Linked DNA regions of Homo sapiens: regions 1 and 2 are each linked to region 3. Evidence: fine-mapped expression QTL. A gene starts in region 3. Each other region holds a variant in brackets. All regions are shown on one strand. Distances are from middle to middle.

Region 1 (8,188 bases), 63 kb before region 3:
ATAAGAAAGTGGCTGTTAATGGGTACAAAGTTTCTTTTTGGAGTGCTGGAAATGTTCCAAAATTATGTTATGGTAATGGTTACACAGTTCTGTAAATATACTAAAAACATTTAAAATTTTTAAAAAATCAACTGACCTGAAAAAGGGATCTTTTCTTATTGATCTGCCTCCATATTTTTTCTCATAGTATTGTAAGAGGAAAATCCACAGTACACACTGCAGGTAAGGCTAAAAGAAGAACATGTAGCAGCTCATGACTAAAAGATTTGTTGTTGTTGTTGTTGTTTTTTCCTTTGCCAACAGAACTAAGACTACATACATCAAGTTCCTTGCCATTACCAAAAGAAGTAATCACAACTTTTTTATATTTTACATGATAAAGATAATTAAAAATAAATTTTAATACAAACCAAAGCAGAATTATTTTTAGCAAATTATTCACATATTTTCTGCCTCTGTATCATTCATTTATTGTCAGCTTCATAAAATATAATCGAACACAAAAACTTTGTTTTTGCTTCTAAGACAGAACTGTAATTAAACAGAATTAATAACATGTAAAAGGCTAAGTATATTAAAGTGAACATATTCAGTAAATGAAAGGTACTCCCCACTGAAATACAGATTAGCTAGCGTTAACTAACATGCTTAACTTTTTATGCACCTTCTTTTTCATGCAACAGGATAAAAAACTAAACATAGTTAAAACCATAGGACCAAACCATTCTTAAGGTACATGCTAATTCACAAAAACACTTTATTTCTTACCGATATAACAGCTACTGAAAGCCTATCCCATGGATTATAGGTGTCCACATTTTTTCGTACATTCTTCCAAGAAATCTAAGACAAAAAGATTTGAAAATATATACGCTGCAATATGTAGAAATATTTGGATTAAAATGAAAAAATGTATTTTGTTTAGCAAACGTGTACTTTCTATAATAAGTTAGCTGTTCATATTAGTAAGTTATGTTTTTTACTTAAAATCTTCCCTGTCCCAAAATATTTCTGAGGATCAGTATAAATTAAACACATTGAACTGAGACCTAAAAAGGGAAGCAGGGGTAGTAGGATTAGTAAGTAGAATTAATTAGCAATTCCAAACCAAGAATTCATAACAATATTTTTTCTAATCACATGGAAATTTCTTTCAATTATCCAGCCTTAATAAAATCAATCTGGTTTTTGTCTCTATTTTTTCTTGGAGAAAATCTCTTACACTTTATTCTTTCTCATCCCTTTATAGTGAAATACGTTATTTAATCACTGATAAACTCCTAAAAACAAATACTGACTGAAACCATGTCACACTTCTAATTATATACATCATTTTGAGCATGAGAGAACCTGTAATGAACATAGCCCTTTTCCTTTGAGAATTTACAGTTTGACAAGAGCTCACAATAATTTATGCTGCATTAATAATATCTAAATCAAGTAGTAGCCATTAGCCCAATGCATTTTACTGTTTTCTATACAAGAACTAACATCCCCAAATTAGACCATATTTATTTTATGTTTTTTAACATATTAAAATATTTAGCAGAATTACCTTTATGAAAGAAATCAGGCAACCTAGAAGTGGATAGATTGGAATGATGATACAAAAGGCATAATGAAGAATAGTTGCAATTGTGTATCCCATAAAGAAAGTTATTTCAGTGATTGCAATACAAGCCAACGCTGCCTAAAGAAAAAAATAAATAAATAAAAGTGACAAAGTGTTTAGAAACTTCTTACAAATTGGTGTCTACGCATTAAACTATTTTTTCAATCCTCTAATAAAACATGGAACAAGAGATGATATTTAGCCAGCAAGCAACAAGAATACCACTTGTTTGTAGCTAGTATCCTTGATACACTAGTTGCTAAATCTCTTCCATATTGTTCCTACGTGGAAAGGATGATTCAGAAGACAAATGTACACACAAAAAGAAGCTGCCAATTACCTATCTAAATTATTCACTTACAAAAGACATGTAACATTTTTAGTATAATCAGGAAAGAATTCATGTTAATTAAACTGCTATGGAAAGTTGAAATAATGTAAAATGTGACTTACCACAGAATAGATAAATGACCAAAATTCTTTGGTATTTAAAATTTTCTTAAAGGTGAAAGAAGCAATATAAGTGAACAGAATAACTGATGGAACATAACCAATAAGGCAAAAAACCTGTAAATCAGAAATATGTTTCTATAAAAATATGAATAGCTTGCAATACACATGACATGAAATACTAGCCATATTAAAATATGAAATTATTAATATAATCCTAAATAAATCATTTAAACTGAACACTACTTGTAGTTTTTTGTACCAAGTAAAATACTATCTCTCATTATTATAAAAAGCAAGTATAGCTAGCTACAACGTTCTCTCTCTCAAATATTAGCTACTATTTTAATATACAGCACTTTATTTTTTAATGTGTAAGAAAAACATTATTATTTTATATGGCAGAAACTAATATATAAGGTCATTATGATCTCTGACAAAATCGGTAAATTTACTTTCAGCATCAACCTCATGTAACTCTGTTTTCCCTTTTTCCTAATAAAGTAATCAATGAAAGGGCCTGCTGTCAGTCATTTACATGTGAACATGAATGCAAATCAGTCTCTTCTTTGATATTTTAAGCTATATTTTATTTTAAGTAATTTCTAGTTTTACTTTAGAATCAGGGGATACATGTGCAGGTGTGTTACATGGGTATACTGCATGATGCTGAGGTTTGGGGTATAATTCATTCTGTCACCTAGGTACTGGACACAGTACCTAACAGTTAGTTTTTCAACCCTTGCTCCCCTTCCTCCTGCCCCCGTCTAGTAGTGCCCAGTGTCTACTGTTGCCATTTTTATGTCCATGTTTACCCAATTTAGCTCCCATTTATAAGTGGGAACATGCAATAGTTGGTTTTCTGTTCCTTTGTTAATTCACTTAGAATAATGGCCTCCAACTGCACCTGTGCTGCTGCAACAGACATAATTTCATTCTTTTTTATGGCTGCTCAGTATTCCGTGGTGTATATGTACCACACTTTCTTTATTCAATCACTGGTCAATGGGCTCCTAGGTTGATTCCATGTCTTTGCTATTGTGAATAGTGCTGCAATGAACATACTCATGTGTCTTTTTGGTAGAATGATTTATTTTCTTTTGGATATATACCCAGTAATGGGGTTTCTGAGTTATAAGGTAGTTCTGTTTTAAGTTTTTTGAGAACTCTCCAAACTGCTTTCCATGGCTGCTGAAGTTTACATTCCCACCAAGAGTATATAAGAGTATATAAGCATTTCATTTTCTCTGCAGCCTCGCCAGCATCTGTTGGTTTTGACTTTTTAATCATAGCCATTCTAACTGACATGAGATGGTATCTTACTGTGGTTTTGATTTACATTTCTCTGATGATTAGTGATGTAGAGCATTTTTTCATACATTTGTTGTCCATTTGCATGTCTTCTTTTGAGAAGTGTCTGTTCATATCTTTTGCCCACTTTTTAATGGAGTTTTGTTTTTTGATTGCTGAATTGTTTAAGTGCCTTATAGATTCTGGATACTTGGCCTTTGTTGGATGCATAGTTTGTATTTTCTCCCATTCTGTATGTTATCCATTTACTCTGTTGATAGTTTCTTTTGCTGTGCAGAAGCTCTTTAGTTTAATTAGGTGCCACTTGTCAATTTTTATTTCTGTTGCAATTGCTTTTGAAGACTTATTTACCCATAAATTCTTTCCCAAGGTCCAGAATGGTATTTCCTATGTTTTCTTGTAGAATTCTTATAGTTGATGTCTTACCCTTAAATCTTTAATCCATCTTGAGTTACTTTTTACATACGGTGAAAGGTGGAGGTCCAATTTCATTCTTCTGAATATGGCTAGCCAGCTATCCCAGCACCATTTATTGAACACAGAGTCCTTTCCTATTGCTTATTTTTATCAATTTTGTTGAAGATCAGATGGCTATAGATGTGTGGCTTTATTTCTGGGTCCTCCATTCTGTTTCATCGGTCTACATGTCTGTTTTTGTACCAATACCATGCTGTTTTGGTCACTGGAGCCTTTATAGTATAGTTTGAAGTCAGGTAATGAAATGCCTCTGGCTTTGTTCTTTTTACATGGATTCCTTTTTTTTTTTTTTTTTGATAAAAAGTCTCTCTCTGTTGCCCAGGCTTGAGTGCAGTAGCACGATCTTGGCTCAACACAACCTCTACCTCCCCGGTTCAAGCGATTCTCCTGCCTCAGCCTCCTGAGTAGCTGGGACTACAGGCGCATGCCACCACGTCCAGCTATTTTTTTGTATTTCTAGTAGAGATGGTGTTTCACTATGTTGACCAGGATGGTCTTGATCTCTTGACCTCGTGATCCACCCGTCTCGGTCTCCCAGAG[T/C]GCTGGGATTATAGGCATGAGCCCCCGCGCCCAGCTTATGTAGGATTCCTTTAGCCATCTGGGTACTTTTGGGGTTCCATATGAATTTTAGAATAGCTTTTTAAAATTCTGTGATGAATAATGTTGGTAGTTTGATAGGAATAGTGTTGAATCTGTAGATTGCTTTGGGCAGTATGGCCACTTTAATATATTGAGTCTTCTAATCCATGAGCATGAAATTTTTTTCCATTTGCTTGTATCATCTCTGAATTCCTTCACCAATGTTTTGTAGTTCTCCCTGTAGAGATCTTTCATCTCCTCTGTTAGATGTATTCCTAGGTATTTTAATTTTTTGTGGCTATTGTAAATGGAGTTGTGTTCTTCATCTGGCTCGCAGCCTGCCCATTATTGAGATAGAGAAATGTTAAGCTATATTTTAAACTATGGAATAAAAGAGCTTATCCTTTGTGAAATTATTTTCAGGCATAAGAAAAACGAAGGAAGGCATTTTAAGGAAGGAATATATTAAAACGTTCCTGATTACACCCAAGTAGGTGGTCTACATGAAAGATCACTTTAGTTTCAAGAAATTATTTTAAAATGGTGGTAAGTTATTGTTTTTAAAAGTCACTTATCATATAAAATGATTACATGTATTAAATACCAGACACACTTGCTCTATTTTCTTTAACAAATTAATAACCAAATTATGCAATAAGTCAACTGTCATGTTTATAACAGATTTTAAATAACATTCTATCTATAAATAGCATGAGTACAACTAACGTTAACTTACCACAGCAAGGAACTTTACAGTATAAAAATATAATCCATAATGAAATGCCAATAAGCTTCCTAGCATCAAAATAAGAATGATAAAAAATAAGGGGATATCAACAACAGCTTGTCCAATCCAATATGCAGATGGCAAAAGACCTGAAAGTTTAAGTTGAGTATAAGCTTTGATCTAAAAAAAATGAAAAACAATTTATTATAATTTTAGACACTTTAGAAACACACAAATAAATTAGTAAATTATTGTAGATCTCTTAATTTTACATCAGCAAAACCAAAAAGGTTACATTCCAGGCTTATAGGTAATAAAAGTCCCCCTCACACTAAATACAAATTCCATTTAGCCTTTAATTTGGCTCATTATTTCTGAGATGTAACAATTTCAACAAAATTTTTAAGAATCAGAATACAGTAGTGCTGCCAAGAAACTGAGATTAAAATAAAGCAAAAGGTGTCATGGCGGTTGGGGTTACAGCTATACAAATAATAAATAGCCAAAACATTACTACTTTTGAAATACTGTGGAAACAGATGGGAAGACATGTTTACACAGAAAAAGAATTCTCAGTTTTAAAAATGAACCTTTCATAAATAAAAACACTAATAAATTGCCAAGTATCCTTTGGATTTACATAAGGCTTTCAGCTTAAGTGAAAGCTTTTGAAATGTTCAAAGCCTTTTGTGTACACTGGTATAGCATATAAATCTAAGGTGTTATTTACGTCACAAGTTTGTTAATGGTAAACTCAAATGATCATAGTTTTCCTATCTCATGTTCTCATTTAATTTGAAATTTCTAAAATATTTCATAAATCCAAATACCTAACAATTTTATTTAGTTGATTTTTGTCATCTATAAAAATATCTACTCCTAATAACTGAAGGTATTATATGAAAGAGCTGTCCACAGAGATAAAGGAAGCATGAAATATAAAGATTAGTTAAGAAGAGGAGAAATGAACAAAATTGGCAAGTTTTCTGTTCAATGAATTATGAGAACATGAGACACATGTAAATTCTAATACAAGAATAAAAACATAAGCTAAGGCAAATGCAATTATTTTGGATAATTCAAACTTTTGTCATTCACACACTGCTGGTAGGGATAACATAAAATGGAACACTCATCTTGGAAAATAATTTGGCAATTTCTTATAAAATTAACATGTATAATTCAGCAATTGCACTCTTGGGCATTTATCTCAGAGAAATGAAAATGATGTTTACACAAAACCTGTATGCAAATGTCCACAGCAACTTTACAAAAGCCAAAAACGGAAAACAATCCAAATGTTCTTCAACAGGCAAATGGTTAGAGAAAGTGTGATGTATCCATACCATGGAATATTACTCAGCAATGAAAAGGAATGGATTATTGATAAATACAAATAGGATGAACTTCAAAAAAAATGCTATTTGAAAAAAGCCAATCCCAAAAGAAAACTTATTGTGATGCCATTTTACATTTTTGAACTATCAAAATTACAGAAATAGAGAACAGAGTAGTGGTTGCCACAGGTCAGAGAGGCTAGGAAAGAGCAAAAAATGGGAATCTTTTTGGTGACAGAAATGTTCTGTATCTTGACTGTGTCAATGCCAATACCCTGTTACATTGTACTATAATTTTACGAGATGTTATTATTGGGACAAAATGTAAAGAGTACACAGGATCTCTCTGTCATTTCTAACAAACAAACATGAATATACAACTATCTCAAAATAGAAACTTTAATTAAAAATAAGTTAGTGGGTGCAGTGCACCAGCATGGCACATGTATACATATGTAACTAACCTGCACAATGTGCACATGTACCCTAAAACTTAAAGTATAATAAAAATATATATATATATAAATAAAAAAATTAAAAAATAAATAAATAAAAATAAAAAATTTATATTGGAAAAAAAATGTTTCAGTTGAAACAAGAAAGAAAATGCAAATGTCCAGTAAATTTTATTATTGTGCAGTGGGTTATGGATTTCTATATTCCTTATACTTTTCTATAATTTATACATTACTACAATGAGTATATTTAACAAAAATTGAATATTATTTTAAAAATAGAGATATGTGTTACTTTTATAGTAAACAAATAACAAAATTTTTATTAGAATGTATTTATTTATTTTATTTATTTATTTATTTATTTATTTTTGAGATGGAGTTTTTGCTCTTGTTGCCCAGGCTGGAGTGCAATGGCATGATCTCGGCTCACTGCAATCTCCGCCTCTCGGGTTCAAGTGATTCTCCTGCCTCACCCTCCTGAGTAGCTGGGATTACAGGCATGCACCACCACGCCCTAATTTTTTTTCTATTTTTAGTAGAGACGGGGTTTCTCCATGTTGGTCAGGCTAGTCTCGAACTCCCAACCTCAGGTGATCCGCCCACCTCGGCCTCCCAAAGTGCTGGGATTACAGGCGTGGTCCACCACGCCTGGCCTACAATTTATTTTTTTAGAATTTATTAAAATAATGAGCTCATTATTCATCACAGTCTGTAAATTAATTTAGACAAATTTGTTTTTACTGAATTAAGATCATCCATGAAGAAGATCAGAATTTTTATTAGAGCAGTAAGATATAATCTCAGCAGAGTGAAAAAGTGGGAGGCTTTGAACAACCAAAGACTGTACAAGATCGCTATATGCCTGAAGGAAAACAAAAGGGAAAGGCGTAAAAAGAAAGTGAAAGAATACCAAAGAACCTCTGTATACTTAGCAATTTCTCCAAGGCCCTAATGATGACAATCACTTTCATCTATTTTTTTTCCATTAATAAGAATTTAGCACCTTGACTACTTAATACCTCTGTTAAAGGATAAAAGGGACGGGCATGTTAGTTTGCCAGTTAAGAACATAAAGATCACAGTCACTTCCCAAATCCACAATTTAAACAAGTTGAGTCAACCTGAGCAAGTCATATGAACAATCCCATCTTTGATTTCCTGATCTATAAGAAATCAGTAACAAAAAACTTACCTCACAATGTTGTGAGAATTAGAGAATATAATTTTTAAAGCATGT
Region 2 (8,188 bases), 140 kb after region 3:
ATGTTCAGATAATCAATATGAAGCATTTTTTTACATTTTGCTTTCACGTACATATATGTATGTGTGTATATATATGTGTGTGTATATACTTATATGTATATATATATCACTATATAATAGTGAATATATGTATATTATTCACTAATATACATATATGTATGTGTATATATATGTGTATCTATAATTATATGTATATATATCACTATATAATAGTGAATATAAGTATATTATTCACTAATATACATATATGTATGTGTGTATATATATACACACATATATGCACACACACACACATATGTATATATATATACACACGCAATCTTGGCTCGCTGCAACCTCCACCTCCCACGTTCAAGCGATTCTCCTGTCTCAGCCCCCAGAGTAGCTAGCTCCCTCTCTCTCTCTCTATATATATACACACACACATATATGTATATACATACATACACATACATATATGTATATACACACACACACACATATATACACACAAATACATATATGTATATTAGTGAATCTACTTAGAAAGAATTTTATTTTGAAAATAAGCTATAACCAACAATTTGGGAGGCCGAGGTGGGTGGATCACCTGAGGTCAGGAGTTCAAGACCAGCCTGGCCAACATGATGAAACCCCATCTCTACTAAAAATACAAAAAATTAGCCAGGGATGGTGGCGTGTGCCTGTAATCCCAGCTACTCTGGGGGCTGAGACAGGAGAATCGCTTGAACCTGGGAGGCGGAGGTTGCAGCGAGCCGAGATTGCGCCACTGCACTCCAGCTATACATTGCATAGGCTCACCAGTACAACAAAACCAGTTTGTTGATTGATAAATAAATATTTAAAATATTGTATGTTTTTATTTTATTTTTTAATTTATTTACTTATTTTTTTGAGACGGAGTCTCACTCTTGCTCAGGCTGGAGTGCAGTGGTGTGATCTCAGCTCACTGCTGCCTCTGCCTCCTGGGTTCAAGCGATTTTCCTGCCTCAGCCTCCCGAGTAGCTGGGATTACAGTGTCTGGGTCTTAGGTTCCTCATCTGTCAAATGGAGACAGTAATAGTTGATTACATAATTTTCATGAAGATTAAATGAGTTATTGCACGTTTAGTATAGTGCTTTCCCCTTATAAACACTCACTACTTATTTTTATTTTTTATTTTTTACTTTTGAGACAGAGTCTTGCTCTTTTGTCCAGGCTGGAGTTCGAGTCCAGGCTGGAGTGCAGAGGCACGATTTCAGCTCACTTCAATCTCCACCTCCCAGGTTCACGTGATTCTTCTGCCTCAGCCTCTTGAGTAGCTGGGACTACAGGCGTGCGCCGCCACGCCTGGCTAATTTTTGTATTTTTAGTAAAGATGAGGTTTCACTATGTTGCCCAAGCTGGTCTCAAACTCCTGACCTCAAGTGATCCGCCCATCTCAGTCCCCCGAAGTGCTGGGATTACAGGTGTTAGCCGCCGCTACTTATTTTTGTAAGATGTCCTTTTATCTTTGATAGATTATGTACTTATTTATTTATTTGAGACAGAGTCTCGCTCTGTTGCCCCAGCTGGAGTGCAGTGGTGTGATCTCAGCTCACTGCAACCTCTGTCTCCCGGGTTCAAGCAATTCTCCTGCTTCAGCCTCCCGAGTAGCTGGGATTACAGGCACGTGCCACCACGCCCGGCTAATTTTTGTATTTTTAGTAGAGACTGGGTTTCACCATGTTGGTCTGGTTGGTCTCGAACTCCTGACCTTGTGATCCCTCCGCCTCGGCCTCCCGAAGTGCTGGGATTATAGGCGTGAGCCACTGCCCCCATCCAGACTGTGCATTTATTTAAGAGAATAAATATTGTGTTCATTTTTACAGACCCCCACAGAGCCTGATGCATAATAGCTCCTTGATAATATTTGTTGATTGAATGAATGGTAGCTATTTTAATGGTCAGAGCCACCTGGACTCATTTAAGTTGCAATCTATGCATACGAGATTGGACCATATCCAGGCAAGAATTCCAGATTCATCCTGTCCTTGTCAGTACCCTAGTTGGGTTAACTGAAATGACTGCCTGGAACACAAAGTCTTTAATAAAATGATATTACTATGCTCTATAAATCTATAAGTTACAGCCTGCCCTTATTTCCCTTATTTAAATTTTTCCTGCCCTCTTGCATTTTGTATCAAAAGCAACCTAAGTTTAATAACTTCAGCAAAGGTAAACATTTCTTCCTTTTGCTTTAAGATTCCCAGTGTATGTGTATTCAATCAGCAAATGTTTGTGAAGCGACCTACTGTACACTTGGCAGCAGGCTGAAAGACAAAAGGCCACCTCCTGATACATCCTTATTGCTGATTTTGTTAATGGTAGAGGTGACAAGGTAGGGGATGCAGAGGAGGGATGTGCCCTTCCTGGTGATGTTTTGTTTTTTTCTTTTTTTTTTTTTGAAACAAAGTTTCGCTCTTGTTGTCCAGGCTGGAATACAATGGTGCAATCTCGGCTCACTGCAACCCCTGCCTCCTGAGTTCAAGAGATTTTCCTGCCTCAGCCTCCCAAATAGCTGGGATTATAGACGTGTGCCACCATGTCCAGCTAATGTTTTGTATTTAGTAGAGATGGGATCTCACCATGTTGGCTAGGCTGGTCTCAAACTACTGACCTCAGGTGATCTGCCCGCCTTGGCCTCCCAAAGTGCTGGGATTACAGGCATGAGCCACTGCACCCAGCCCTGGTGATGCTTTTTAGTGCCTCTAATTCTTCTGAGCCTTTTCCTCCACTTCTTAGAAATATATAGACCTTTGGCTGGGTGTGGTGGCTCATGCCTGTAATCCCAGGACTTTGGGAGGCCAAGGTGGGTGGATCACCTGAGGCCAATAGTTCAAGACCAGCCTAGCCAACATGATGAGACCCCATCAGTACTTAAAAAAAAAAAAAAAAATGCAAAAATTAGCCAAGCATGGTGGCGCACAGCTGTAGTCCCAGCTACCAGCTACTCGGGAGGCTGAGGCAGGAGAATAGCTTGAAACAGGAGGCGGAGGTTGCAGTGAGCCAAGAGCAAGCCACTACTCCAGCCTGGGTGACGGAGTGAGACTGTCTCAAAAAAAAAAAAAAAGAAAAGAAAAAAAGAAATATATAGACCTCCTCTTTCCACCCCCTTCCTCTAGTAGCTTGTCCTTTATCTTCCCTTCCTCTATGGAAAAGCATATTGTAAATTAAAGAAGTCAAAAATGCAAGAGGGTATTCTGTATTTTTACTTTTACTATGATCTCCGTTTTCCCAGAAAGTGTGTAGACCCTCCTTATCATCCCTCAGCTCTATTCCTTGGCCCATTCCTTTCTGGAATTTGTTTCTCAAGCCATCGGCACTGCATCCCCTCCAGTGGTTTGAAACCGGGCAAGACTTTGCATTCCAAAGCAAAAGTGGAAATCAGATGCTCTTAGCAATCCCTGTGAATGCCGGGAAATCCCGTGGCATTTTCTTACAGAAACAGGTTATACTGGGTGGATGGGTTTAAAGC[A/G]TTATTCACAGGACTAATTGTATGACTTGGAGCAGCCTCGGTTTCCTCATCTTTCCTCATTTTTCCTCATAAAATGACTTCTACTCACTTAAGGCCTGTTCCAGGTTCAAAGATCTAGGATTCACTTATGTTATCAGTTAAATAGGCTTTTGTTGGGCTGATGGTGGAGGCTCCCCATTGAAATATTGTGTATCTGGGAAATATATGCAGAGCTAAACAATCAGATTAACGAGTGAACTTTTGATGTACCATCTGTTTATTATGGTGGTTCTACCATGAAATCTGTTGCAAAGATAATACTAACAAAGCAGAAAAGTGCATCTTAATATTTACATGGATTACAATAAGAATTGGTAATGACTCATGAACTGGTAATCTCAGCGGCTCCCATTCTATCCTTCTGGTTAATGCTTTACTTGAAGCTGAGTTTTGTTCCACTAATTATTTCTTCATACCTGCATCCTAGGCAGTAATAAAGGGGTCTCTATATAAGGCAAAGAATATGGAATTAAGTAAGCGAGGTACCATATATGAATAGGTACAAGAAGAGACTGAAACATGTTAGAATTTGTGTTTTGATACTTGTCAGGGAGAACTCCTGGGATGATGTTTTACCTAATACTTAATGATATCTGACTGCTCTGCTCTGCAGGGAGCACAGCCATGTGGTGCTCATTGGCTGATGTTTGTTAGGAAGTGGGCCATCTGTAGCCAGGAAGGCTTGAGATAATCAGGAGGGGGAAAGTGGGAGGAGAATGGATTGTATGGAGCTGTGAAATGCCATTGTGGTGAGTTTCCTTTCATTGTGTATTGATTGGGTTTTCTAGAGGACAGCTCTGGACTGAGTCTTTTTCCATTTTCACTGTTGCTAGGTTGACTGTTAAGTAATGCTTTTAGACTTCTTGGTGAGACAACTGAGAACATCCTGGAACTACCATACTATAAAAATGTTAATGTGTACATATCTATGTATAACAGTAACTCCCAAATCTCAGTTTTTATTCAGTCTTTTCCTTGAAGCTTAAGAATTGAGTAAGCAGTTGTTTGCTGGATTTCTTTTCTTAGTTTCGTGTTTTTTTTTTGTTAGAGTCTCACTCTGTCACTCAGGCTGGAGTGCAGTGGCATGTGATTTCAACTCACTGCAACAACCCAGGTTCAAGTGATTCTCCTGCCTCAGCCTCCCAAGTAGCTGGGATTACAGGCATGTGCCACCACGCCCAGCTAATTTTTGTATTTTTAGTAGAGACGAGGTTTCACCATGTTGGCCAGACTGGTCTCGAACTCCTGACCTCAAGTGATCCACCTGCCTTGGCCTCCCAAACTGCTGGAATTACAGGCATGAGCCATCACAACTGGCCTTGGATTTCTTTACCTGGTTGGTGCCTGAATCTTAACCTGTTTCAGCCCAAGTGCACCCCTTCCCGCATTCCTAGATTGCTTCTCCTGTGATAGTGTTCTCAGTTGTTACCTGCTATTTCCCTAGAAGGACCTTTAGTGTAATTCAGAGTTCCTTCTCCCCATCTCTACCATCACTAATCCAATCCAGGCCCTTCTCATCCTTCATTTGAGCCTCTGCTGTAATCTCTCAATTAGTTTTCCTGACTCCAGTTTCATCCTCTATTTGACCCACTCTCCATCTGCCACCAGAATGACTAAGGAAGTAATTCAACAACCATTTACGAGCCAATTACTCTTTTCAGGCTGGGATAACACAGCCAACGAATCACTGTTTCTGCTCTCGCAAAACTTAGTTTCTAGTACTGAAGGCCAATAAAGCTGTGTACGCAAACATAACTAATGTGTTTATAAACTGTTGCAAAGGAAACAAACCAGGATTTGAGGTGGAGGATGAAAGGGAAGGTATCCTTTGCGTAGGGTTGATGAACAAGGGCTGTCCTTGATGATGACATCGAAGCTGAGTTCGAAAAGGTGCGAAGAAACTAGAAGAGGAATGAAGGGAGCCAGGGGTGTCCAAAGGAGAGAATACAGTTATGGGTTCTTAGTTTCTGTTTCTGGTTGGGCCAGTAAAGCCCCTTCATCATCCCTCTTTTCTGCTTATCACTAGAGAGAGAAACTAAAAACCATGATTTCAGGCTGCAAAAAGCCTAAAACAAAACAAAAGAAAACAGAACAACAAAAACAACAAAAGGCGGGTTGAACAAGCAATCCAGACAGAATGAACAGTCTGTGCAAAGATGTGTAAGAGCTTATTGGTTTCAAAGAACTGAACACTAGAAGAGAGTGATTAATGCACAGAGCAATTGAACAAGTCATGGGAGATGGGATCAGAAAAATGGGCAAGAATCGTGTTACAGAGGCCCTTGTGGTCTGCAGCAGAGAGTGCAGGACCTATTTTCTAGGGGAGAATAGACCCCACTTTCTTGTAATTGTGGAAATGAGATCCCTGTTTTCTTGCTGGCTGTCAGTTGAGGACTGTCGCTAGGTTCTAGGGGCCACATGCATTCCTTGAGTTCTGTCCCCTTCCTTCATCTTAAAAGCCTGCAAGGCTGGTCAAGTTCTTCTCACATTGCATCTCTCTAACCAACCCCTCTACCTTCCTCTTCCACTTTTAAGGACTATTTTGAGCCCGCTCAAAATATCCAAGTAATCCTGATCAATCATTAACTTTAATCACATCTGCAAAGATCGTTTTGTCATGGAAGGTAACATATTCACAGAATCTGGGAAGTAGGACATGGACAGCTTTGAGAGTGGAGTGGATATTATTCTGCCTACCACAAAGGTAGAGTCAAATGAGAAAAGTATCTATAGGGGTCCAGGTGCGGTGGTGCACACCTGTAATCCCAGTGCTTTGGGAGGCCGAGGTGGGCGGATCACGAGATCAGGAGTTCAAGACCAGCCTGGCCAACACAGTGAAACCTGGTTTCTACGAAAAATACAAAAAATTAGCCAGGCATGGTGGTAGGCGCCTGTAATCCCAGCTATTTGGGAGGCTGAGGCAGGAGAATTGCTTGAACCTGGGAAGCAGAGGTTACAGGGAATGGAGATCGCTCCACTGCACCCCAGCCTGGGGGCAATGGAGTGAGACTCCATCTCAAAAAAATAAATAAGTAAATAAAGAGAAAAGTATCTTTGGGGTGGTTGATGACCTTGACAAGAGCTTTTTTGGACATATGATGGCAAAGGAGAGCCACATCATGGTCGGTGGAGCAATGAAAGCAGAAGTTAGAAAGTAGAAACAATGGGCCTGGCATGGTGGCTCATGCCTCATGCCTGTAATCCCAGAACTTTGGGAGGCTGAGGCGGGTGGATCATTTGAGTCCAGGAGTTCAAGACCAACCTGGGCAACATGGCAAAACCCCATCTCTACAAAAAAAATCCAAAACGTTAGCTGGGCATGGTGGTGTGTGCCTGTAGTCCTAGCTACTCAGGAGGCTAAGGTGGGAGGATCCCTTGAGCCCAGGAGGTAGAGTTTGCAGTGAGCCTCATCACACCATTGCACTCCAGCCTGGATAACAGAGCGAGACCCTGTTGCAGAAAGAAAACCATAAAGTAGAAACAATGTAGTGTGTAGACAACTCTTTAGATAACTTGGATTATGGCTGGAGGGGATGTGGAATGAACTGAAGCATTTTTTTAGGCAAATACAAATGATGTTTACTGATAAGAATAAACCAGGCAAAAGTAGCATGATGATGATACTCGGAGCATCACCAAGATGAGGCCCTGGAATCCTTCATCCAGGGAGGATAGATGCTTCATCCGTCAGGGAAGGGAGGAAACCCTGCAAGGAAGCACTGGAATCTTTCCCAGGACAAGAGTGGATGAATCCAGAGCCAGCAGAGAGCTTGGCCTTTGATGGGAGGGACATGCCCCCTTGTGTATAGAAGGGAAGATGGAGGATTTGGATGCTTTGTGACATTGTGATGGGAGATAAGTGAAGTGCCATCTCATGGCTTTTATTTTGTCAATGAAGTATGAAGCAGGGCATCATCTAACAGAACTGTGACCATACCAACCTTGCTTCAAACTCCTCAACGGCACTACCTGCTTACCTCTGTTTTTGTTTCCTGGTGCTGTCTGCCTAGAACTTGACACTACCTCCTCACACATTCTGCCTAGCCCTCTGGACACACCACACCTCTTTGCTTTTGATGGTGTGTTTGCTTATGGCCTTTACCAGAATGCCTTGCCTCTTCTCACTTTCCCTTTTACCGTCTCCCATCCCCACCTCCCAATGCACACTCCTTTTCCAGGAACCAGCCTTGAAACACACCCTCACCCTGGCTGTTTATAGGGGCAGAGGCCCTGGTGCTTTCATTGTGAAATTCACAGCACCTAGGACAGTACCTGCACACAGGAAGAGCTCAGTATATGTTTTTCAATATAATAACTTCATTGCAGGTAAATTAATTGATTGAGCATATATCTCAAACTATCAAAATAGGGTAGGAAAAAAATGAACTGTATTAAGCGGAAAAGAACTGTTGTTATACTCTTTGATGACTTGGTATGATTTCATTTTGCTCACTCTCAACCACCAGCTTTCAGTGGGCTCAAGCATTCAAAATGTCAACTTTACAAAGTCATGAAATCAACCTAAGCATCCATCAGTGGTTGACTGGATAAAGAAAATGTGGTGTATATATATGCCATGGAATACTATACAGCCACAGAGGAGAATGGAATTATGCCTTTTGTAGCAACATGGATGGAGCTGGAGGCCATTA
Region 3 (8,188 bases):
CTGTAATCCCAGCTACTCAGGAGGCTGAGGCAGGAGAATCACTCGAACCCGGGAGGTGAAAGTTGCAGTCAGCTGACACTGTGCCAATCCAGCCTGGCAACAGAGCAAGATTCCGTCTCAAAAAAAAAAAAAAAAAAAAAAAAGTGCTGGTTACTACGTTCCAAGTCCTACGAAACATATTCCACATCACTAAAAGTAATAAAAATGTACATAACCTTTAGAAATAATTGTTAGAGAAAAATTATTTAGGATGCATGAATTTAATTAATTAAAATAAGAAATTTGAAAGCTATAAAGTATTTTTTAAAATCTAAGGTAGTTCTACTATTATACCTACTGCCTTTGTTAAAAGCAGTGCTTTCCTTAGAAGAGCCTCTCTCTTCCCCCACCTCCCCCGCAAAATCCATCACTTATCTAATGATACCATTATCTCCTTCAAATATTTTCAGCTAGTAAAACAACTCACTGCACAGCAGAGGAGGTACTAAATACCTGTGGAATAAACAATCCATTTATTATGTAGCAGGTAAAATAACTTTAAATTTTTTAAATTATTTTCATAGAGACCTGATTAAAAACATATCCATGTTTATTTCTGTGAGAAACAAATTAAGATTATACCCTATAAAATAAATAAGTTGAGTCATCCTGATGTTTAGAGCCATCCTGATAAGAAACGTGGTCACCTTCTTAGCATCCTTAAAAGATTTCCAGAAAGGCTAGCTGAAAATACATTCCCTACCTCCAACAAATGACTGTTAGAGGTTACTTCTCATCCACCTAAGCAGATGTAACAGAAAATGGATAGTCTGTCTACTTGGGGCTTCTAAACGTTGTTCGGCACTGAAGGTTGACTTTGGAGACTGGGTCATGAAGCTTGACCTCTTAATTACTGACCTTTTGTTATACATGAAATTCCTTCCTTATTTTCTTGTTCCTAGATCACACCAGATGATGCCAGGGATAAAAGACCGCTGACTGTGATAAAAGACCCTTTGACCATTACATCCTTAATGTGAAATGTTAAATATACCCTTCCCCCAAAAAGAAACACTGCCTATAACTAATTGAATTGCTCTAACTATGCACTAACCTCGTACGAAAAATGATGTAACCCTGTTAAGCATCCCCAGGCCTTGCCTATGTAAAGGACCCTCAAACCTCTCCACTTTGGAGCATTTACCTCATCCTTCAGGAGTCTGTGTCCTCCTGTGTGACCATCCTCAAGTTTTATGCTCAAATAAACTCAATTTTTAATCATATTGCCTAAATGTCATTATTAACATTGACATGGAGCTGATTATCACTCCTTTGTTTTACCTCTATACCCAGTAAACATAACTGTAACTGCAGTAACTATACCCTGTCACCATTATTTATTTATATATTTTCATCTTGAACTTGACCATGAGATCCTTGATGAAAAAAACAACAGTCTTATTTATCTTTGTTTCTCCACCACCAATGGAAATATTAAACCCAGTATCATCTTACCACAGATTCCTTTATCAAGGCTTCCTGAGAGTCCTTAAAGATCAAGGATGTGCAAACTATGATGAAAGAGGTGGGGGCTAAATCCAACCCTCAGTCTGTTTGGCACAGCCCATGAGGAACACTGCTTCTGCATTTTTAAAAGGTTGAAAAATAATAATAATATCTTGTGACATGCAAAAATTATATGAAATTCAAATTTCAGTGTCTATAAATACAGTGTTATTGGAACACAGCCATGCTCATTCATTTATGTATTATCTATGACTGCTTTTGTGCTACAACAGTAAAGTTATTGAGACAGAGACCATACTGTCTGCAAACCTAAAATATTTACTATCTGGCACTTTACAAAAAACGTTGGTCAACTCCTGTAAAAAGGAAGAAGAGGGGAAGTGAGAAAAGTGGCATATTCACTTAACATTTACTGAAGGATTTATGCATCCAACATTATGAGGCAAAAAAAATAAAGTTAGACACTGTCACTAACTTTGCAGAGAGATAAAATTTAATATAATGTGATAAGAGAGAAAGAGCCTGGAAAGGAGTGGAATGGAATTTCCAGGCAGAAAGAAAAGAATGGTAAAGCTAGACTCCCAAACAAAAGGGCTTGACTTTTGTGAAGAACAGGGATACCTGCCATATGGCAGAGGCATAAGGCAAAGTGAACCGGAGCAAGGGGTGCAGATGTATGTTCTAGATAACACGGTAAAGGCAGGCATTGGGAATGGATTATGAAGTTTCTGGTATCCAAAATTAGACACCCTAATTTGTGCACTCATATCTTTCCTCTACTGTACTTTTCACAACTGTGAGTCATGTTTAATTTCCTAGCAATCACATATTCCACTAGTCCATCACTTTCCCAATCCCCAAATCTCCAAAGCTTCCATCTGTAGGATCACCCTCAGATTATGACCTTGAATCCTACTTTACTGAGAAAACTGAAGCAATTAAAAGAGATTTCCAAAATCCACCACAAAGTAATGTTATACATTTCAACAATGTGCCATTTCAGCCTAAACTGAAGACTGATTTCATTACAACTCTGAAACACAAGAAATTAAATGCAATCTGGTATTAGCTACACTTTTAAACTAAGATATTTTTGGAATGAGAAATTAGGAACATATCTGGCACATGAAACAAACTCCTGCCTAGCTACATCATTTGCTTCTCAATCAATGAAATAAAAGCACTACAAAATATGCCTTTTAGCTTAAAAAGGGATAAATTATAAATGCTCTCATCTTCTTTATTGCTTTAAAATTTACTGTAAGGTGGTGCAATAATAAAACAAAATGCAGTCAGGTGCAGTGGCTCACGTGGCAATCCCAGTGGGAGGAAGGCTTGAGCCCAAGAGTTCAAGATCAACCTGGGCAACATAGAGAGACACTGTCTCTACCAAAAAAAAAAAAAAAAAAATAGCCAGGCGTAGGGGCACACAACTGTGGTCCCAGCTACTTGGGAGGCTGAGGTGGGAGGATCACTTGAGCCTGCGAAGTCAAGGCTGCAGTGAGCCAAGATCCTGCCACTGCACTTCATCCTGGGTGACAGAATGAGACCCTGTCTCAAAAAAAAAAAAATGCTAGTTGTCAATATAATTTAACCTAAATTTTATCACAGTGTTTCTTGCTGAGGGAGAAAATAACAATGCAATGGTACACAGAGGACAAGTCATCCAATAAATTTTCTTATGCATAATAGGTCCTTAAAAGCTTGCCCTTAAAACTATTTTTAATCCAACTAATTTACATACTAGAAAAGTTATGACTTAGTACAATATCATAAAATTCTTTTATGCAATCACCCTCTCAACTAAACTCAAGGACAGAGATTATAAATTGTATTCATATCGGTACTCTTGGCACATAGTATGGTATCTGGAATGTAAAAGACATGCAACAAACCAGCCTGGGCAATATAGCAAGACTTCGTCTCTGAAAAACAAATAAAAAATTACCTGGGCGCAGTGACACACGCCTGTAGCCCCAGCTATTCAGCAGGGTCCCTAGAGTCCAGACGTTCAAGGCTGCAGTGAACTTTGATCGCACCACTGCACTCTAGCCCGAGACGCTGTCTCTTTAAAAATAAAAGACATGCAATACACATGGAATGTACTAATAAATTTGCTCTTATAGTGAATGTAAGATTTCCCTACACTAAATCTGTTTGAAAGGAAATATACTCAAACAGCACATATGCAAAGATTAACGCCTCTTTAGTTTGATTTTAACACAAATACCCACAAAGCCCTAACTGCCCTAATAATGTTCCCTACTATGGAGTCTTCCCTAAAACACATACAATATTGCTCTCCCGGCAAACACAAAATATACTAAATAAAGCACCAGAATTAGGGTCTGGCAGCCCGGGTTGGAATCTCAACTCCATCCTTTTACTAGCTGAGACCTTAATAAGTTACTTAACCTCTTTGAGGCCCATTCTCCACACCTGCCCAACTGGAATAACCCCCTCCAATCCTACAGGGTTGCTGTCAGAATGAAAAGAGCTAATACCGAGCCTGGCTTAAAGCTGTAGTCCAGCAAATACTCCTCTTCCCTTAGATTCCTTCAGAACGCCCTTGTAGAAAGTAAACGTGGTTATTATCTTCATTATTTTCGGACTTATTTATTTAAAACGTAAATCGAAGCCTGAGGAGCCCAGGGGAAAACCTCCTTCAGCTTAATAGCTCCAGCCTGCCCAGCTTTCCGATCCAATTAAGTATTTCCATGCCTGGAGCTCCTATTCGTGTTTTAGGATCAGGGAATTTCCCTCCCAAACTGTGTCATGAGATCTGCGCATTTTCTTCTCACTGAAACTCCTTTTAACACGCAAGGTAATGATCCGCGCGTAACCTCGCAGGGAAGAGCAAGCGCTCATTACCCAGCTGTTCAGACGGAAATTTACATCAATATTTGTTTTCCTTCTTTCCCTGAGGTTGCTGAGGGTGGAACGACAGCGTCCAGGCAAAGGCAGTGTCCCGAAGTCCCACGGCCGGACCCGGTCCCAGGGGAGCCTCGCGGAGCCCCCGCCGCAGGGCCCCGACCCCCTCACGTCCGCATCCTGGGCGCTCCCACCGCATCCCCGAGGCTGGCAACCCGCGCTTCCCGGGAGCTGAGGGAGGTCTGTTTCCCTCAGCTCGCCGCCTCTGCCCGCTTCCGAGCCCGCTTCACCCCACACCTCAGACGCCGAACTCCCCTTCTCTCCCCGCCGTCCCTCGCTGGCCAGCCCCTCCTCGTCCCCTCAACTCCCCCAGGGACGGCTGTCCCAGGCTAGCCTCAAGCGCCGCCGCCGCCCGCGACGCCCGCCTCACCTCAGGGCCCGAGCCGCAGAGCTGTCAGGCCTGGACGCGCTCAGTCTGTTGACTCAGTGCGGGTGACCCAGCTGGGATCTGTGCGAGGGCGCGGCCGCGCGCACCCGCGCGCTCCTGGCGCAGGCAGAGCTGGCGGCGCCGAAGTCGCGCCCCGCCTCCTGCAGAGCGCACCTGAGGGCGGGGCTCCTAGAAAGCGCCGCTCCGCGTACGGGCGCGCTTCAGACGCTCGGCCCCGCGCGTCCCGGCGCACGCAGGCAAGCAGCGCGCCCGGAAGAGGAGAGCGGCTGAGGGTGGGGCGAGCGGTGGCGCGCCGCTGCCCAGGGCCCCTGAGCCACTAGAGTCGGGCCTCGTGGCTCTTCCCCAGGGCCTCCCACGCCTGGGTTCTGCGGGGATCTCGCCACGCTCTTTCTGGAGGCACGGGCAAAAACCACGGCCTCGTGTCTCAGTGGTAAACCTGCCGCCTCTTAGCGGGTGACCTTGGCCCACGGCCCTCTCCTCATCTGCCTCGCCCAGTCACGTCTCCTCTTAAGCATCCTTGCCGTCTGTCTCCTGGCATTTGGATGGGCCTCTCTGAACGCGTTTTGAGTCCTCTGCAGCCCCGCTTCCTCCCGCCGCGGCATCTGGAGTGCTGTGGCCCCGTTTCCGTAACTCTTGCCTCCCCTCCCCAGCCTCCTCATTGGCCCTCACACCCCGACCTGGGAGGTCCTCCCACTGAGGGTGCTTGTAGTTCGCGGAGTGTCCTCATCAAAGACTGGGAATGCGGCAGATGCTGAATTTTCCAAACGGCCTGAGACACATGACATCTGTGAGAGACTGGATACTGCACTTACTTTGCTAAAAATATAATCTAGTGTTTTGAGCTTCATTACTCAAAGTGACCTAAATGGGGTCAAAAGTTATTAACACTAACATTACGTATTTTCCTCTCCACATTTCTGTATAGTCACATTCCCTTGCACAAAGACTTTTTTTTTATTCTGTCAATCCTGTGTACATCATGTTTTTTTTTTTTACTTGTCTTTGTGTTATCTGCTTCTCGAATTTAAACCAGGTCTCCCCAACATGCACTCTGCTTTCTAAATTCTTAGGGGAAAAACAAACAAACAAGGAATCAAGTTTTACTTATGGAATATGAATTAAATAGAAAATTCAAAGAGGTTCGTCAGAATCCTTGATGATTAAAACAGCGGTCCCCAACCTTTTGGGCACCAGGGACCAGTTTCATGGAAGACAGTTTTTTCTGGGGGAGGGAGGATGGTTTGGGGATGATTCAAGCACATTATATTTACTGTGCACTTTATTTCTACTGTTACTACACTGTAATATGTAATGAAATAATTATACAACTCACCATAATGTAGAATCAGTGGGAGCCATGAGCTTGTTTTCTTGCAACTAGACAGTCTCATCTGGGGGTGATGGGAGACAGTGACAGATCATCAGGCATTAGATTCTCATAAGGAGCACGCAACCTAAATCCCTCACATGCGCAGTTCACAATAGGGTTCTCGCTCCTATCACAATCTAATGCCACTGCTGATCTGACAGGAAACGGAGTTCAGGCCCTAATGCCAGCCATGGGGGGCCCCTGTAAATACAGATAAAGCTGCACTCACTTGCCCTCCGCTCACCTCCTGCTGTGCTGCTTGGTTCCTCGCAGGCCACAGATCCCGGTAGCAGTCTCTGGCCTGGGGATTGGGGACCCCTGGATTAAAAGATCTAGCAATGGGGATGGGGGAAAGGGAGATAAGTATATTCAAAAAACTACACCAGGAAACTAAAGAAGGCATGTAATGAAAACTATCCCTGATATATTCTGTCTCTTTTGGAAACATCTAGAACATTTTAGTTACAAATTCTCAATGGCCTAGGATTTGGGGCCAAGTAAAGAAATATACATGAAAGATAAACTTGGTTAACATGTTACTGAACCATACTTTCACCCCAACACTTCTCACTAGTAGCCTTAACCTGCCTTAACTTCAGAAGTCTACTCATTTCTACTACTATTCTAGGCATTTATTTCTTACATTTCTTATCCTTGTAATGTTCTCTGTCATTCATTCTGTCTGCTCATGCTTTTACTCTTGTTTCTAAATGACATGACCAAAACCCAATTCTCCAAAAATCTCATCACCCTGGACAAAATGATCTCACTCTCCTCCCAATTGCCTACATACTACCATCTTGTTCACATCATTTTATTTACTTACCATCTCTTCAATTAAATTGTAAATAGTCTTAGGTTAAGAGCTTTTTCTTGACTTGTCTTTTTCTTTTCTTTTCTTTCTTTCTTTATTTTTGTGACAAAGTTTTGCTCTGTCACCCAGGCTGGAGTGCAGTGCCATGATCACAGCTCACTGCAACCTCTACCTCCCAGGTCCAAGTGATCCTTCCATCTCAGCCTCCTAAGTAGCTGGGACTACAGGTGCATGCCACCACACAGGCTAGTTTTTGTATTTTGTTGTAGAGACAGGGTTTTTCCATGTTGCCTAGGCTGGTATCAAGCTCCTGGGCTCAAGTGATTCTCTGTCCTTGGCCTCCAAAAGTACTGGGATTACGGGCCTGAGCCATAGCACCCAGGCGAAAGCTTCTTCTTATACCGATTTAAATTTCCAAGTCCTATGCATCATAGTATACAGTAAATATTATTAATGCTTCCAATGAGAAAACACATATAATAAGCAAGAATATTCAAATATTTTCATTTCCCCCACAAAATGTCACCACCCACTCAACAAGGGCTACCTACTCATAAAAGGGAAGATATCAAATTCCCCTTATAGGATGAATGACAAAATTATGATGGTGATATTGTTTGGCTCTGTGTCTCCAACCAAATCTCACCTTTAATTGTAATACTTCCCACATGTCAAAGGTGACCAGGAGGAGACAATTGAATCCTGGGGACAGTTTTCCCCATGCTGTTCTCATGATAGAGGGTGAGTTCTTACAAGATCTGATGGTTTTATAAGGGGCTTCCCCCTTCACTCGGCACTCATTCTCTCTCCTGCTGCCCTGTGAAGAGGTGCCTTCTACCATGATTGTAAGTTTCCTGAGGCTTCCCTCACCATGTGAAACTGTGAGTCAATTAAACCTCTTTTCTTTATAAATTCCCTAATCTTGGGTATGTACTTATAGCTGCCTGAGAACAGACTAATACAGATGTAATGCAGTTGTAAGAATAATTTAACAGAGGGAATACTAAATAAGACCTATTAATAAAAAGATTGCCACAAATTGATGTATGGACCCTGACATATTTTACTGTCTGTTTGAACAGGTTATTTATCAAACTATTTGTACCTTGTAAACAATGTAGCCATATAATCTCAATCTAAATTTCCATAGTTACCAGGTCCCAGTACTAAGTAAGCAGCT

What was found.
Region 1: its variant is fine-mapped to the expression of ABCA5 in whole blood (TOPMed, PIP above 0.99).
Region 2: its variant is fine-mapped to the expression of ABCA5 in pancreas (GTEx, PIP 0.97).

What each region holds. Positions count from the first base shown.
Region 1 is chr17:69,259,570-69,267,757 of GRCh38, forward strand. It overlaps ABCA5 (ATP binding cassette subfamily A member 5), which reads right to left. Exons shown (of 39, transcript NM_172232.4): 24 at 5,166-5,336; 25 at 2,066-2,179; 26 at 1,556-1,690; 27 at 769-843; 28 at 137-228. Among named protein-coding and RNA genes, the nearest start is that of PRO1804, 29 kb to the left of the region's middle. The variant T/C (reference allele first, on the strand shown) is at 4,391.
Region 2 is chr17:69,463,211-69,471,398 of GRCh38, forward strand. The region is part of intron 1 of MAP2K6 (mitogen-activated protein kinase kinase 6); the gene reads left to right. Among named protein-coding and RNA genes, the nearest start is that of MAP2K6-AS1, 18 kb to the right of the region's middle. The variant A/G (reference allele first, on the strand shown) is at 3,498.
Region 3 is chr17:69,322,245-69,330,432 of GRCh38, forward strand. ABCA5 (ATP binding cassette subfamily A member 5) reads right to left here and starts at 4,889. Exons shown (of 39, transcript NM_172232.4): 1 at 4,808-4,889. RefSeq lists silencers at 4,576-4,665, 4,796-5,175 and an enhancer at 5,256-5,395.